Linked DNA regions of Homo sapiens. The protein of the gene in region 2 interacts with the protein of the main gene of each other region in a biochemical or structural test. Each region holds a gene or a part of one and is shown on either strand. Other genes may lie near its edges. The genes, in order: SMOC2 and TNC.

Evidence for each region.
Region 1: the proteins of TNC (region 2) and SMOC2 form a complex in vitro, tested with the Homo sapiens proteins (one study listed by BioGRID).

What each region holds. Positions count from the first base shown.
Region 1 is NC_000006.12:168,647,094-168,654,370, reverse strand, and holds part of SMOC2 (SPARC-related modular calcium-binding protein 2 isoform 2 precursor), read right to left. Parts: intron 3,691-7,277; coding exon 3,588-3,690; intron 1,418-3,587; coding exon 1,143-1,417; intron 1-1,142. UniProt on the Homo sapiens protein: Promotes matrix assembly and cell adhesiveness. Can stimulate endothelial cell proliferation, migration, as well as angiogenesis.
Region 2 is NC_000009.12:115,079,898-115,087,174, forward strand, and holds part of TNC (tenascin isoform 1 precursor), read right to left. Parts: coding exon 5,967-7,277; intron 4,576-5,966; coding exon 4,312-4,575; intron 2,911-4,311; coding exon 2,795-2,910; intron 2,032-2,794; coding exon 1,875-2,031; intron 1-1,874. UniProt on the Homo sapiens protein: Extracellular matrix protein implicated in guidance of migrating neurons as well as axons during development, synaptic plasticity as well as neuronal regeneration. Promotes neurite outgrowth from cortical neurons grown on a monolayer of astrocytes.

The DNA.
Region 1 (7,277 bases), on a different chromosome or scaffold from region 2:
CATTTGGTTGGAGCTCAGGTAGAGGGTTGGTGAGTTCCTAACATTTGGTTGGAGCTCAGGTAGAGGGTTGGTGAGTTCCTAACATTTGGTTGGAGCTCAGGAGCAGGGTTGGTGAGTTCCTAACATCTGGTTGGAGCTCAGGTGCAGGGTTGGTGAGTTCCTAACATCTGGTTGGAGCTCAGGTGCAGGGTTGGTGAGTTCCTAACATCTGGTTGGAGCTCAGGTACAGGGTTGGTGAGTTCCTAACATTTGGTTGGAGCTCAGGTACAGGGTTGGTGAGTTCCTAACATTTGGTTGGAGCTCAGGAGCAGGGTTGGTGAGTTCCTAACATCTGGTTGGAGCTCAGGTGCAGGGTTGGTGAGTTCCTAACATCTGGTTGGAGCTCAGGTGCAGGGTTGGTGAGTTCCTAACATCTGGTTGGAGCTCAGGTGCAGGGTTGGTGAGTTCCTAACATCTGGTTGGAGCTCAGGTGCAGGGTTGGTGAGTTCCTAACATCTGGTTGGAGCTCAGGTGCAGGGTTGGTGAGTTCCTAACATCTGGTTGGAGCTCAGGTACAGGGGTGGTGAGTTCCTAACATCTGGTTGGAGCTCAGGTACAGGGTTGGTGAGTTCCTAACATTTGGTTGGAGCTCAGGTACAGGGGTGGTGAGTTCCTAACATTTGGTTGGAGCTCAGGTAGAGGGTTGGTGAGTTCCTAACATTTGGTTGGAGCTCAGGTAGAGGGTTGGTGAGTTCCTAACATTTGGTTGGAGCTCAGGAGCAGGGTTGGTGAGTTCCTAACATTTGGTTGGAGCTCAGGTGCAGGGTTGGTTATTCCAGTGGTTCCCAGGTTTGCACCTCAAATACCAGAAGACAATCCATTCTGGGGGAAGCCAACCGTGGTCTGAACAGTAAAAAGGCTCATTGCAAACCAACACGCAGTTCATGCCCTTTGAGCCTGGGCTCTCCTGGGCAAGTGGCATGTGATGAGTCGCCAATTATCATTATTATTTCTGCAAACAGACGCCCAACAATTAAACAGCATATTTGATTTTTTGCACTCCCAGGCCATAAACACAATCTGTAATTGTGTTTGTGAGAAGCAGACCTCCCAGGCCTCAGGGCCTGACCACTGCCCAGGGTCGGGGGTGGGAAAGCTCTTACTGTGGCGTTTCTTGGTGTCCGCTTTGCCGTCCTCTTTCGCCACGCCCAGGCAGCCCATCAGTTCTTGTACGGAGATGGATTTGTCATTATTCACGTCACAGTATTCAACAAACTTCTTCACACATTTTTTGGGCTTTGATTTTTTGCGAAGGAACCTCTTGAAGGGTTTGATTTCCTTTTTGCCGATGTCTCCACTGGAGTTTTTATCCAGTAGTTTGAAGTACCAGTGCACCACCCGCTCCTCTAGGGTATGGCTGGGGTCGGGTTCTGAGAGCCTGGAAGGAACACAGATGCCGTCAGGATGCTTAAACCCCTGGGCTGCTCCTTCCTGGCCACTGTCCTTCCCTCAAACCCATAACCCCTGCTTGTAGTTCTCATGGTCCTGGTGTCTCAGCCTGCAGCACTGGTCATCAGATATAACAATTTAAAGAAATAATTTAGAAGAACATTTTTAGCAAAGATTTTTCAGGTTGGATTCAAAATTGTAAATGATGCAGTGAATTTGTGCCCAGCAAAGATGCACTTGAAGGACAAAAGCCCCCTTATCCTGGCTTCTGTGTGCACAGGACTGGCAGGTCAGCACATGCAGCTATACCCGCCCGACACACCAGAACCCTGAGCTTTTCTAGCCCTGTAAATGTGATTCTTTTACACATCCTTCATGTCATAGGAATATCAGATGATGCAAATCAAAAACATTTTAAGTTGGGACTAGATATTTTTCCTTGGATTATGTTAGGTTCAATATTTTAGGGCATACATAAATAAACTCTTCTAGAAGGTGCGGATCTTTAAAAGTGCACCAAATGGCAGACACGCACCTTCTCCGTGAGATGGAGGGTGTGTGTGTGCGCATGGGATGGCCCTCCTGGAGGTGCTGGCCCCTGGATTCTGCCTGTTGGGATGAGCTGTACATTCCCAGGTATGAGAACACCGTGAACTCCGACACCATTGCCAATTTCTCAACCTTTCGGAGGATTTTCAGATAACAATCCATTTACTGCCATCAATTTTAGTTTGCATTTAGTTTAGTTTGCAATTTAGTTTAGTTAGCAATTCATTTACTGCCTTCATTTTTAGTTTGCAGTTTAGCTTAGTTTGCGAAAACAATCTTTCCAAGAATAGAAGATGTAAAGTTGAAATTTACATACAGTTTGACTCTATTAAAATTTTTTTTTTTTTTTTTTGAGACAGAGTTTTGCTCTTGTTGTCCTGGCTGAAGTGCAATGGTGTGGTCTTGGCTCACTGCAATCTCCGCCTCCCAGGTTCAAGTGATTCTCCTGCCTTAGCCTCCCGAGTAGCTGGGATTACAGGTGCCTGCCACCATGCTGGATTAAGTTTTGTATTTTTAGTAGGGATGGGTTTTCACCACGTTGGCCAGGCTGGTCTCGAACTCCTGACCTCAGGTGATCCACCTGCCTTGGCCTGCCAAAGTGTTGGGATTACAGGCGTGAGCCCCTGCGCCCGGCCTGCTCTATTAAATTTAATTTCCTACACATTCATGACATTTTCTGTTAGTATTGCCTTTTTATTTCCTTAAGTCTTCTTTAGCAGACAGACAGTGAGAGGAGAGGCTTTTAGTTCAGGAGACCAAAAAAATCACCTAAAGTGGCTGAGATAATCAAGGGTTTGGGTGTCAGGGGCTATGGGGAGAAAGGCCAACATTCTAAAGAAAGAAAAAAGATGAAATCTCCATCAAAACTTTATTTGAAAGAAACAGATAAACTATGGCTAGATCAGGGGGAATATCTGATGCTTGAGATGCCATCGCAGTAAAACCCTGGGGTTCTTCTGCTCTCCTGAGGCTGATCTACAGAGGGTGGAAAAGAGGAGTGTTGGAGAATTCACCGAAAGCCACTCCACCGAGCTCCAGGCCCCAGGTCCAGGAGTGCGGGAATGCCTACCAGGTACTCAAGGAACATCTCCAGGGTTCCAAAAATCCTATTTTGAACAGTGTGAATGTCTTTGATGTAACTGAATCACATGCCTGAAAGTGGTTAGGACAGCAAATGTATGTGCTGTACATTTTACTGCAGTAAACCTAATCACGTTTTGAGAACTTCAGATTAAACGTTGTCATTCAAAGTATTTACAATCCAATCGATGACTCTAAAGTGCAATTTCAAAGCACAAAGCCCTCTGCAGGAAGTGCTCCCCCTGCCCTGCTCCGCACCAAAAGGGCCAGGGTCAGAGCCCACTACCCCGCAGAGGCCCAGGAGTCACGGCTCAGGGCCATGTACCCCTATGGGAGTGTTTTCAGTGATTTAGTCTTGCTACAAGAAAACCTGCTAAGCAACTTCCTGTGTTTGCAGAAGGCTCCTTTTTAAGGCCCTACTGTGTCCAAATAAGCTGAGAAGGTTGCCAATATGTAATGTTCAGACTTTCCAGATTCCCCAGAATTCTGGGACCCTGCCAACTTGTTGTCCCACGGCGAACACAGCGTACCTGCCTGACGAGGAGGAGGGGTCGGAGGCGGCGTGGACCATGTCCGTGGACAGCGCGTCCAGAACGCTGGTCAGAAACTCATGCTTTTTGGCACCCGGACAACCTGAAAAACACGTGTATGTTTTCATAATTAACTCATAAAGCCTAACAGATTTTCCTCTAAAATACAGGGAAATGTTGTTTTACTGTTTGGAAATGAGTATTTTGGCCTACCTTAATCTTAATGAGCTAGTTTAAACACAAACACATTGCATTATATATATTGATTTTGAGCCATAGCTATTATTAATTCCTCTATTGTTTGAATTATTACGTGAGACTAAAATTCACAGGCATTAGTATCTCACTGATCTTCAGAACTGCAATCGGAGGTGGGCAGTGTCACTCATCCAGCGAGTGTGGCAGCAGAGGCACCGGGTGCTTAGGGACACGGGACATACGGAGTGCACGCTGAGAGCACATGAGGCTGGCCATCCCAGCAATCGAGGCCAGGGCCTGTGATTCACCGCCACCCCCACCCTGTCCAGAGCCACCTCGCTTCTCAGAGCAAAAGGAGGCAGTAGGGCAAACAGCAGGAGCTCCCCAACGCCCGTCTCCTGGGGACTTGTCCACACCACGGCATTGGCACGAACAGTCCACAGCAGGGTTTAGTGCTCATAGCTTTGGAGCCCAGCGCGGACTGTGTATGGATTCTGGGGTCAGGGAATAATTCAGGCACCCAACATTCTGCAGCGTGACTTTCCCCTCCATCCTTCCCTCAACACCACTCTCCTCTCCCACCGGTTAGGAATTCCCTGACACCATGCCTGAGACACTCGTCCCACCCCAAATTCAAGATAACATTTGAAAGAAGCCATCCACTTTCTCTGGGGTCTTTTCTCCTGAGACCGTTCCCGGTGCTACTGCCCCAGTAGCTGGACACAGGCAGCATCCCGTGTCCTTATGCCCAGGGTGGCATGGACAATGGACAACATAGGTCTCCTCTCTCTGGATGCCCTTTTGGCATAGAGAAGCAGCTCAGCTGCCCAATACATGCTTGCTGGATCAATAAGCAAATGCAAGAGGTAGGAGCCCCACCCTCGTTTCCCCGATGAGATCGGCGGGTTTAAGAGCTTCACAAGCAGGGAGCAAAATTTGCCGATTCCAACTGGGTCTATTTGTGTGTAAATATCCAGGGGAGAGGTGACAAACGGAGCTTGTTACCATTTACATTTTGTTAAATTTTTATAAAGAAAGCCCTTCCAGAGTTCAGTAGAAAGAGAAAGATACCGAGGGGAAAATAGAAGACAGAAGCCAGGCACCAGCCCTGGAGGGACAGCGTCCCCACTGAGCCACGCTGCACTCTCAGACTCCCTGCTGGGGAGGCTGCCTCTCCCTGGGGCTCTGCTGGGGCTAGGGACACCCACGGAGACTTCTGAGCCTGGAGAGCACCTCGGGCATTAGAACATCTGCTCGGACCGTCCTCACCACAGCAGGAAGGGAGTTTACACCACACACCTTCTGCCCAATTTAGATTCCATTTTTTACTAAGAAAAGTTTTAGACGGCCCCGCCAAAGGGAATCTCAGGAGCCCACTCAGTAAGTGGAGGACGCGGAGAGCTGCAGAGCCCAGGCAGAAAGCCGAGTGGGACTGAGGACGGCCCCTTCCCCGCCTTCCCCGTGGCCCTCAGAGGAAGGATTGTCTGAGATGAGGAGGGCTCTCTCTGGACTCCTCAGGCAACAGGACAGGCTGAGGGTGCCGTGGGGAAAGGCAGTGCCACACGTGATTCTCAGACCCCTGGGTCGAGGGCACGTTGGCGTGGACCACCCCTGGGTCAAGGGCACGTTGGCGTGGACCATGTGGCCGTGGTGTGGACAGCAGCCAAGTCGTTCGGAGACCAGCCTGTTTATGCAGTTAGGGACGCCCTGGTTTTCCTAGGTTTCTTTTTGACACTGGAGTTTTGTGTGATTGCTCTTGAAGCACACGTGAGCTGCCGATAGCAAGACTCCACAGTCATGCTGGCTTCCACTTCATTAAACACACATGTCAGAAAACAGATGTGCAGCCTTCACCAGGGGGGTTCTGAGAGTGCAAAAAGGTCTGTGTTAGTCTCTTTGCACACAACTGAAAAAGGAGATCAAAATCTATAGCAAAAAGCATCACGGCCACGGGGCAAATGCTACTTTCCAAGAAAGAAGTAACAGTCTCATCGAACATCCCCTCAGAAAGGCAGAGGACCTGAGGCTGCAGAGGCTGCTGGCCGCGGTGCTTCCAAAGCTGCCCAGCCCACCCGGCCTCGGCTCCCTGGGAGGGGCCTCCCGGTCTACAGAAGGCTGAGCTCCCCAGCTGCAGGACTAACCAGGAAGGGAAATGAGAAAAACAACTTGGAGGGCTGAAAATGCCTCCAGGGCACAGGCTCGGGAACACGTGGGCAGAAGCCCTGCCAGGCCAGCCGTCCAGGAGAACTTGTCCAGGGCGACGAGACAGGCGCCGGGGCAGGTGAGGCTGGGACCCACAGGACCTCGGGCACCTGCCTGCCAGGGCTGCTCTCTATGAATTTCCAGTCCTCCACTGGCCTCCAGAGATTCTGAGAGGAATATGGATTTGATGGAGAAGAATATTATTATCTGGGAGAAAAGGCGTTTTAGATAATCCTCAGTACTGAACAGCTTTAAGAAAGAATTATGTGGATATTTGGTGTGGTAATAGGGACACACCCAGGGGGATTTTTTTTGGCTGTTAATTTAATCATATTCCCCCAAATGAGATAAAGCAACACAATATTTCAAATGAGAAAATAATAGATGTTCATCACGAAACATGACTAACATAATATAAAAGCTGCAGGAGTCTTTAGTGCAAAAAGAAAAACTGAACATAAAAAGCATTATGTACTTCTAAAACAAGAAGCAGCAAATCAATCCTGCTCAGTCCCATGTCACAGTCACCCCAGGACCTGGAATAATGCTTGTTACTGATGACGGACGACTGTACTTCAAAACTACTTCTGAAGAAAAAAGGCGAACAAAAATGAAAGATTACAAGCAATCAGAAGAAAAAAACTAACTTTCATTATGTTAAAGTGAATGTTCACTGCATGAGAAATCACAGAAGTACCATGAAGTGAAAATTTCATCACCCTGAGATGTCCCAGATCTAGCAAACGCATGAGAGGAGCAACGAGGCTTGAGGTAAAAGAGAAACGACCCCAGAACAGCTGGGATTTCCCCACTGTTGCCCACAGGGAGCTATTCCGCTTCTCCCATGACAGCTGTGTCCGGCACGGTGATGGCTGCAGAGACCCTCGTCCCTCGCAGGGGCGCTGGCCCCCTGCCAACCCTTGCTGTAACTCCTCTGGCCCATCTTGATAGCAAAGCCACCCTTTGCTCTGGCATTTTGTGGTGTGTGATTCAGGCTGGGGAAGCTGCCCGCTGAGAACCTGTATGAGGAGCCTGGTGCTCTGGTGGGTCCTTTCTAGCACACTCCGCCCCCGGCCTTCTTCTCACTTAGCCGCCTGCACGGTGGGGTCTAACGGCCCCTGTAAATACTGCGTCATGGAAGGGTTGGCGTCAAAACTGCCGCATGCAGGCTCAGCGATGTACCCAGTCACCCTTTATTTTGGGACAGTTCCACTCACAGTAAGTTCTCCAACCACCCATTGAACTGAGTTCAGAAGTCTCAGGTCAACAGAGGCATAGCACGAAGGTGCT
Region 2 (7,277 bases):
TCTGAACTAGAAGTTTAAGGCCCTTTACATCTGGAAAAAAGGTTAAAGGTTTAAAGGTTTCAGGTATATGTGGTAAATTGTGGCCGGCCGTGGCGGCTCATGCCTGTAATGCCAGCACCTTAGGAGGCCGAGGCGGGTGGATCACTTGAGATCAGGAGTTCAAAACCAGCCTGGCCAACATGGTGAAATCCTGTCTCTACTAAAAATACAAAATGAACAGGTAAATATTTGTCCCCCTATGTTGAAATTTATGATTATGCAACTTCAAATGTTGGAATGTTTGTTCTAAAATAAGAAGAAATAAAGCAGACAATTCCCAAATTTAGATAAACAAAAGAGCAGTGAAAAAAAAAGTTCAGTGCACCTCCTCCATAGCAACTAAGCATTTGCTTTGTCTTTTCTTTGTCTTTCTGGTGATCTAATGATTTTTTTTTCCTGTTGGTACCTGCTTTTCTACCTACCACAGAGAGGTGGTGTCAGGATGATGGAAAACACTTGCTTATGAAAGAGAAAATCCTTTGAATTGGCTCTGAGCTAGGCAAAATGTGCAAATATTTAAATGCAAGATGTTCTTTCTTGTCATTAGCAACTGATTTAATTTTTCCAACAACCCCCTGCCAAGAAGAGTCGATTACTTAAAGAGTTGGCGCATATGTTATCTTGAAGAAAATAAAGAGGTTTTCCTATATGGAAGTGCAAAATTATGCATTTTTTTCTTTTTAAAAAATTGCAGCTGTGCACGGTGGCTCACGCCTGTAATCCTAGCACTTTAGGAGGCCGAGGCGGGTGGATCACTTGAGGTCAGGAGTTGGAAACCAGCCTGGCCAACATGCTGAAACCCCATCTCTACTAAAATACAAAAAAATTAGCCAGATGTGGTGGTGGGAGCCTGTAATCCCAGCTACTTGGGAGACTAAGGCAGGAGAATCACTTGAACCTGGGAGGCAGAGATTGCAGTGAACTGAGATCGTTCCACTGCACTCCAGCCTGGGTGACAGAAAAAAAAAAAAAAAATGTTTCCTGGTGGAGCAACTCCAAATTCAGGTCTTTTTCTCACCAAATGATCTAGTACTGCTAAATCCTATTCTACTCCCAAGAACTTCTGACATCATTAGTATTGAATGAAATTTTATTTAGGTTCCCATTGAAGAGATGGAATCAACATTCTACATAAACCAGAGCCTAGTCAATGTTAGTGGAAATGGGGTTAAAGTTATAAAACTTACCCTGGCTTAAAGTTATGCCCCTGATGGTGTTAACTATGGGATGTTAAAGTGATTTAGCTTCTTTAAGCCTTAACATTAATATTTTCCCTTCCTCTGTCCTACAACTGGGTGCTAATATTAAACTAGTGACATGATGCTAATTAGATTGTTAGCAATGGGCTTAATTATCTTCAGGTAGTCACACCCCTTTGAAAGGAGATTTTGAAACTCCTTTCATCAAGAGATGGATCTGTTTCTCTATTCCTTAAATATAAACTGGCCGTGGGATGTGCTTTGATAGAAGTGATCTAATGCCAATTTTGAACCTGTTCAATAGCTGTGTGAACAGGACCAGCATCCTGGAGAATGAGAGGCTCTGCGAAACAGAAAGACACCATCCTGGCTGAGGCCATCCTAGGCCAATCCACCCCTTAAGCACACAGATACATGAGGAGTGCAGTCAAGAACAGATAAGCTGCTCAGCTGAGCCCAAACCCAAATCACCAACATGCAAAGAATTGTTATTTTAAACCACTGTATCTGGATTTTTAAAAATGCAGCAAAAGTTAAATGATGTAGATGCTATATGAGAAGGCACTTTCTCAACCAGGAGGTGCTATGAGGTACAATCAGCCTTATCATTCTATAAGTATTAAAGGTGATACTCACGTGTGGTGGTCACCCTCTTCAGGCCAGGGCCCCGGGTATTGTTTTTCACTATGTGCAGAGATATCTCATACTCTTGCCCAGGAGCTAGACCAGTTTGCCGGTAAGAGGTCTCTGGCCTCCTCAGGCTTTTGGTGATCTCTCCCTCATCTTCTTTATTCTGAGAGATAGAGGCAGCTTGGTAAGAGTTAGGGGAGGTGCCAGTCTCTTAATTTATGTGATTCATTCACTCTGCATTCATTCATTCCTCTGTTATTCTTTCATCGATTCATTAGGCACTTACTATGCATCAGATCAGTATGTAAGCTACTGAGGATACAGAGATGATAAAGACATTTCTCTAGTTTGTTTCTCCCATTCGTAAACTTTTACCCCTTTGTCATGCAAGTCAAATGACAGAATGTGAGAGCCAAAGGAATTCTGAAGGCACAAGCTCAATCCCTCCTTGGGTAGACTGAGGCCAGCATCAGAGGAGTAGGGTGATTGTTGGATAGTCACACAGCTGGTTGGTGGCAGAGCCTGGGCTTAAATTCAGAGAACAAGTTCCCTGCTTCACATGTACTTTTGGGCCTGGAGAGAAGGGTTGCTCAAATCTGAGATGTACCTTTATTTTGAGGGAGAGACTGTTTCTTCTCTTCTTTGCCTCTGAGTAGAGATTTCTAAGGTGATGATGGACAATTGGAACCTTGAGGTGACAACTTCTATTTGTCTAGGGTGTCAGCCGTAAGTGCTACACTTACTTATTAAAATCAGGGAAAAACCAACATCCCTTAAAATATAGATGCAAACACAAATGATGCTAATGAGAGCCTTGTCCTCCACCAAAAACTAAGGAAAATTAGTTGATACAGAAGTCTTCAGAACCCTTTGGTCATCTTTCAAATCCTTGAGATCAAATGGATCTGCTCTTTTGTACTCCTTACCATATTCCGGAAGATGATCTCCCAGGTTTCAAAAGCAATGTCTAGAGGATCCCACTCCACTTCCACAGATGTCTCCTTGATGGACTTGAATTTCAGGCCTTCAGGTGCAGGTAAGTCTGTAAGTAACAACATAAATAGAACGTAAGGATAGGGCAGGTGTGTGATTGGGCAACGCGGCCACGATTCCACTAAACCAGACTGGATGTCTGCAACAGTCAGGGGCTGACAACCAGAGCAGGTGTCCTTTTAAAGCTTCTTCTGGGATGAGGTCTCTATGAGGCTGTATAAAAATTAATATTAGGAAAAATGGTATGATTAATTTTGGCAATTTCATATGTTTAAATCTAAAATGAACGCAGGCTTTGGAATCAGACAGACTTGGGGTTAGAATCTAAGCTCTACTATCAATGTGAACTTGAGCAATTGCACACAGTGCTCTAAGCCTGAGTTTCTTCACTTGGAAAAAGAAGGTAAATATGTCTACTTCTTGGGAATGCATTGAGGAGTGAGTGATATACTCCACTCCAGTGTGTAGACTGCTGGGCCTGGTTCGTGGCATGCAGAACAAGTTGAATAAATGGCAGCCAATGTTATTATTAAGGAAAAAAGGGTCAATTTCTAGCCAGAGCTTGCTTTTTAGATATGAAGGTAATTATACTGATGCTAAACTCATAAACCAGAATGTTTCCACTTAAAGAAAAATAGTCAGTGATCTCCACTGAAAAGTAATAGAGTGGTTTAGAACATAAACCTGCCAGGACTGCCAGGGTTAAAGTTTTGCCTCTACTCCTTGTTAGCTGCATGACTTGGGATAAGATGCTTAACCATGCAGTCTCAGTTTCCTCATCTGTAAAATGGGGTTAACAATAGCTCCTATTTCATACATATACTAACTCATATAATGAGGACTCTTTTTTTTTTTTTTTTTTCTTGAGACAGAGTCTCAATCTGTCACCCAGGCTGGAGTACAGTGGCATGATCTCAGCTCACTACAAACTCTGCCTCCTGGTTTCAAGCTATTCTCTGCCTCAGCCTCCTGAGTAGCCGGGATTACAGGCATGCACCACCAGGCCCGACTAATTTTTGTATTTTTAGTAGAGACAGGGTTTCGCCATGCTGGCCAGGCTGGTCTTGAACTCGTGACCCCAGGTGATCCACCTACTTTGGCCTCCCAAAGTGCTAGGATTACGGGCATGAGCCACCATGCCCGGCCAAATGAGGACTCTTATACTAATATGTAGACTGCTTACAACAAAGTCTGATACACAGTAAACACTTGCTAAATGTTACTTGTAATGATTTTCTCTGGCAGGAAGTATATAGGAGAGCAAGGAGAAAGATTTGATGGAAAATGAGGGATTTCTTTAATAAGTGATTCTATGGACTTAATTCTAGGCTCTTATTTGGTATAACTGTAAAGAACAACTATAGGATTGTAGGGGCCGTGGCGAGGGAGGGTTATACACTGGGTGGGCTGACATCAGGTGAGGCTGCCCAAAAGAGTTCTGCTCACTCACACGTGGCCACCCTGGCGCTGACAGGAATGCTCTTCTTGTTCTCCAGGATGGCAAATACACGGATAAAGTACTCCACACCAGGCTCCAGCTCCTGGATGATGGTGGACGTCTGGTCCCCAGGCACACGGAACTGCATTTCCAGACCACCCTCGTGGGTGGGCGTGTACACGACAAGGTACTCTGTGACCCGCATCTCATTGTCCCAGGCCAGGTTGACCGTCTCTTCCGTCACTTCTGTCACAACGAGGTCTTTGGGAGGAGACACTGGCAGGAATAAGAAAGGACATCTGGTGTCAACAGTGTGTCCTCTAAAATCTCTCTAGGTTTGTTTGACCTGTCTTTTCCACTGTCAGCCACAGAGGTCTGAAGATCTTCTGTTGCCTCTAAAATGCAGATGGCATCAGGGACCCCCTGCTGTGATCCATCTTAAGACCTGTGGTGGCTGTTCCTTAGTCCATTTCCTTCAGGCTGGAGTCCCAGGTCAGCAGTGTGCCCTTGGGTGTTTCTGGCCTCTCCAACTTTCTGTGCTTCCTGGGTCTTAGCTCAGATGCAGGCTGTTGGCATGGGAAAGTGCAGTCTGAGCCTCACTCCCTGCTCTGAACTTTGAGTTACGTGTCCCTAGCACTGGGAGGGTATTTTGGGCATATCTGGTCCAACTTTCTTATATTATAGAGGTGAGTAAGACAGAACGCCTTGACCAAGCTTGCTCACCTCATCAAGTTTAGAACTTGTATCTCCTCCCTGCCAGCCTGGTGTTCTTTCCAACCAGGCTTCCCTGCTTGCGCCACATTGAACACAAAGCCATTTATTTATGTTTAGATACCAATAACTTTAGTAAAGGAAAAAATTCTCCATTATGACAATGATAATATGGGTAGATGAGAGGAGTACAAAGAAGACACTCATTAAATATGAGCATTAATTTTCTCTCCTGTGTTTTCACTTAACCAGGGTTTACTAAGCACTTAATATGTACCAGGTCCCATACTAACTGCTAGAAATAGTGCCCTTTTAAGGATAGGAGCTTGCAGTCTTTAGGATTAAAAAAACAAAACAATCAAAAAAACAAAACCAGTTACAAAAGACAATGAAAAGACAGGTCAATCTTGTAGATAATAGGCATTTCGTCTTTAGCCAAGTATGCATTTGAAACAGTTGTTTTTATGTAATCTCACTGCGTATTCAATTTAGCTGAATTTTTACATCCATCCAAATACAGAGATTTTGTTTACTGTTGGTTTGATGTCAGTGGAGAGTAGGAAATAAAGTTGATATTTAGCAAAAGAGAGAGTATCCCTTTATCTACCTCATCTTGAACACTAGATGTGTTCTGGCCTCTCCAACTTTATTTTAAACTCTATGTAGATGAGTTAGGCAGACTTGAATACCAGCTCTGTGATGTGTCAGCTGTGTGTCCCTGGGACAATTATATAACCTCTCTGAGCCCTTCAGCCCTTAAATAGGTCACCTTGTAACAACGGAATGACAGGGCCCCCTTAAAAAGTCATTATGGGTGTGTGTTTAAATGGATATATTAATACGTACAAAGAATCAGTGTGCATGAATGTTTATATATATAAACGTAGTTTTCCAACCCATACTAGGAGTCCACTCCATCATGGCCATTATATGCTGGTCTGCGCCCTGGCACTCACCCTCTGAGCAGTCTTCTCCGCTGTAGCCCTCGTTGCAGATGCAGCGGCCCGAGACGCATTGTCCTAAGTTGTTGCAGTCACTGGGGCAGGAGTGCTGGCCACAGTCCAGGCCTGTGAAGCCCTCGTGGCAGATGCACTGGCCGTCCACGCAGCGGCCCTGGCCATGACAGTCACTGGGACATCTTTGCTCCTTGCAGTCTTTGCCCATAAATCCTTCATGGCACACGCACTGCCCATTCACACAGCGACCCTGGCCATGGCAGTCATTTGGACAGGAGAGTTCTGCACAGTCAGGGCCGGTGAAGCCGTCCTCACAGACGCACTGTCCGTCCACACAGAGGCCCCTGTTGCTGCAGTCCCTGGGGCATTGGCGATCCCGGCAGTCTTCCCCTGTGTAGCCGTCATCACAAACACACATGCCATTCACACAGCGGCCGTGCTGGTGACAGTCATTAGGGCAGCTCATGTCACTGCAGTCATAGCCCTTGAAGCCTTGCTCACATACACATTTGCCCTCGACACAGCGGCCCCGACTGTGACAGTCATTGGGGCACCGTAGCTGGCTGCAGTCCTCCCCAGTATAGCCCTCATCACACACACACTGCCCATTGACACAGCGGCCATGGCCACTGCAGCCATTGGGACACTTGAGCTCCCCACAGTCAGCTCCAGTGAAACCATCATCACACTCACACCGCCCGTCTACACAGCGGCCACGATTGTGACAGTCAGCAGGACACCTCTTCTCGCTGCAGTCCACACCGGCAAAGCCCTCATCACATACACACTGCCCCTCCTCACACCGGCCCTGGGTGTGGCAGGCATGTGGGCAGGTGGGTTTCCCGCAGTCTTCACCTGTGAAGCCTTCTTCGCAGTAGCAGGTGCCATTGATGCAGCGGCCCCGGTCGAAGCAGTCATTGGGGCAGATGAGCTCACTGCAGTCTTCGCCCGTGAAACCCTCATCACACACGCACTCATTCTCCACGCATCGTCCACGGTTGTAGCAATTGTTGAGACACAGAGGCTTGTTGCAGTCATCGCCTGCAAAGCCATCGTGGCACACACACAAGCCATCTACACATGTGCCGTGCTCCTCACTGCAGGGCACTGGGCAGATTTCACGGCTGCAGTCAGCCCCGGCGTAGCCTTCGAAACAGATGCAGACTCCATTTACGCACTTGCCCTGGTCATTGCAGTCGCTGGGGCAAGCCAGCTGGCTGCAGTCCTCGCCCGTGAAGCCGTCGTCACAGATGCACTGCCCATCAATGCACCGGCCTCGAAGGTGACAGTTGCCTGGACATTCGGGCTCAG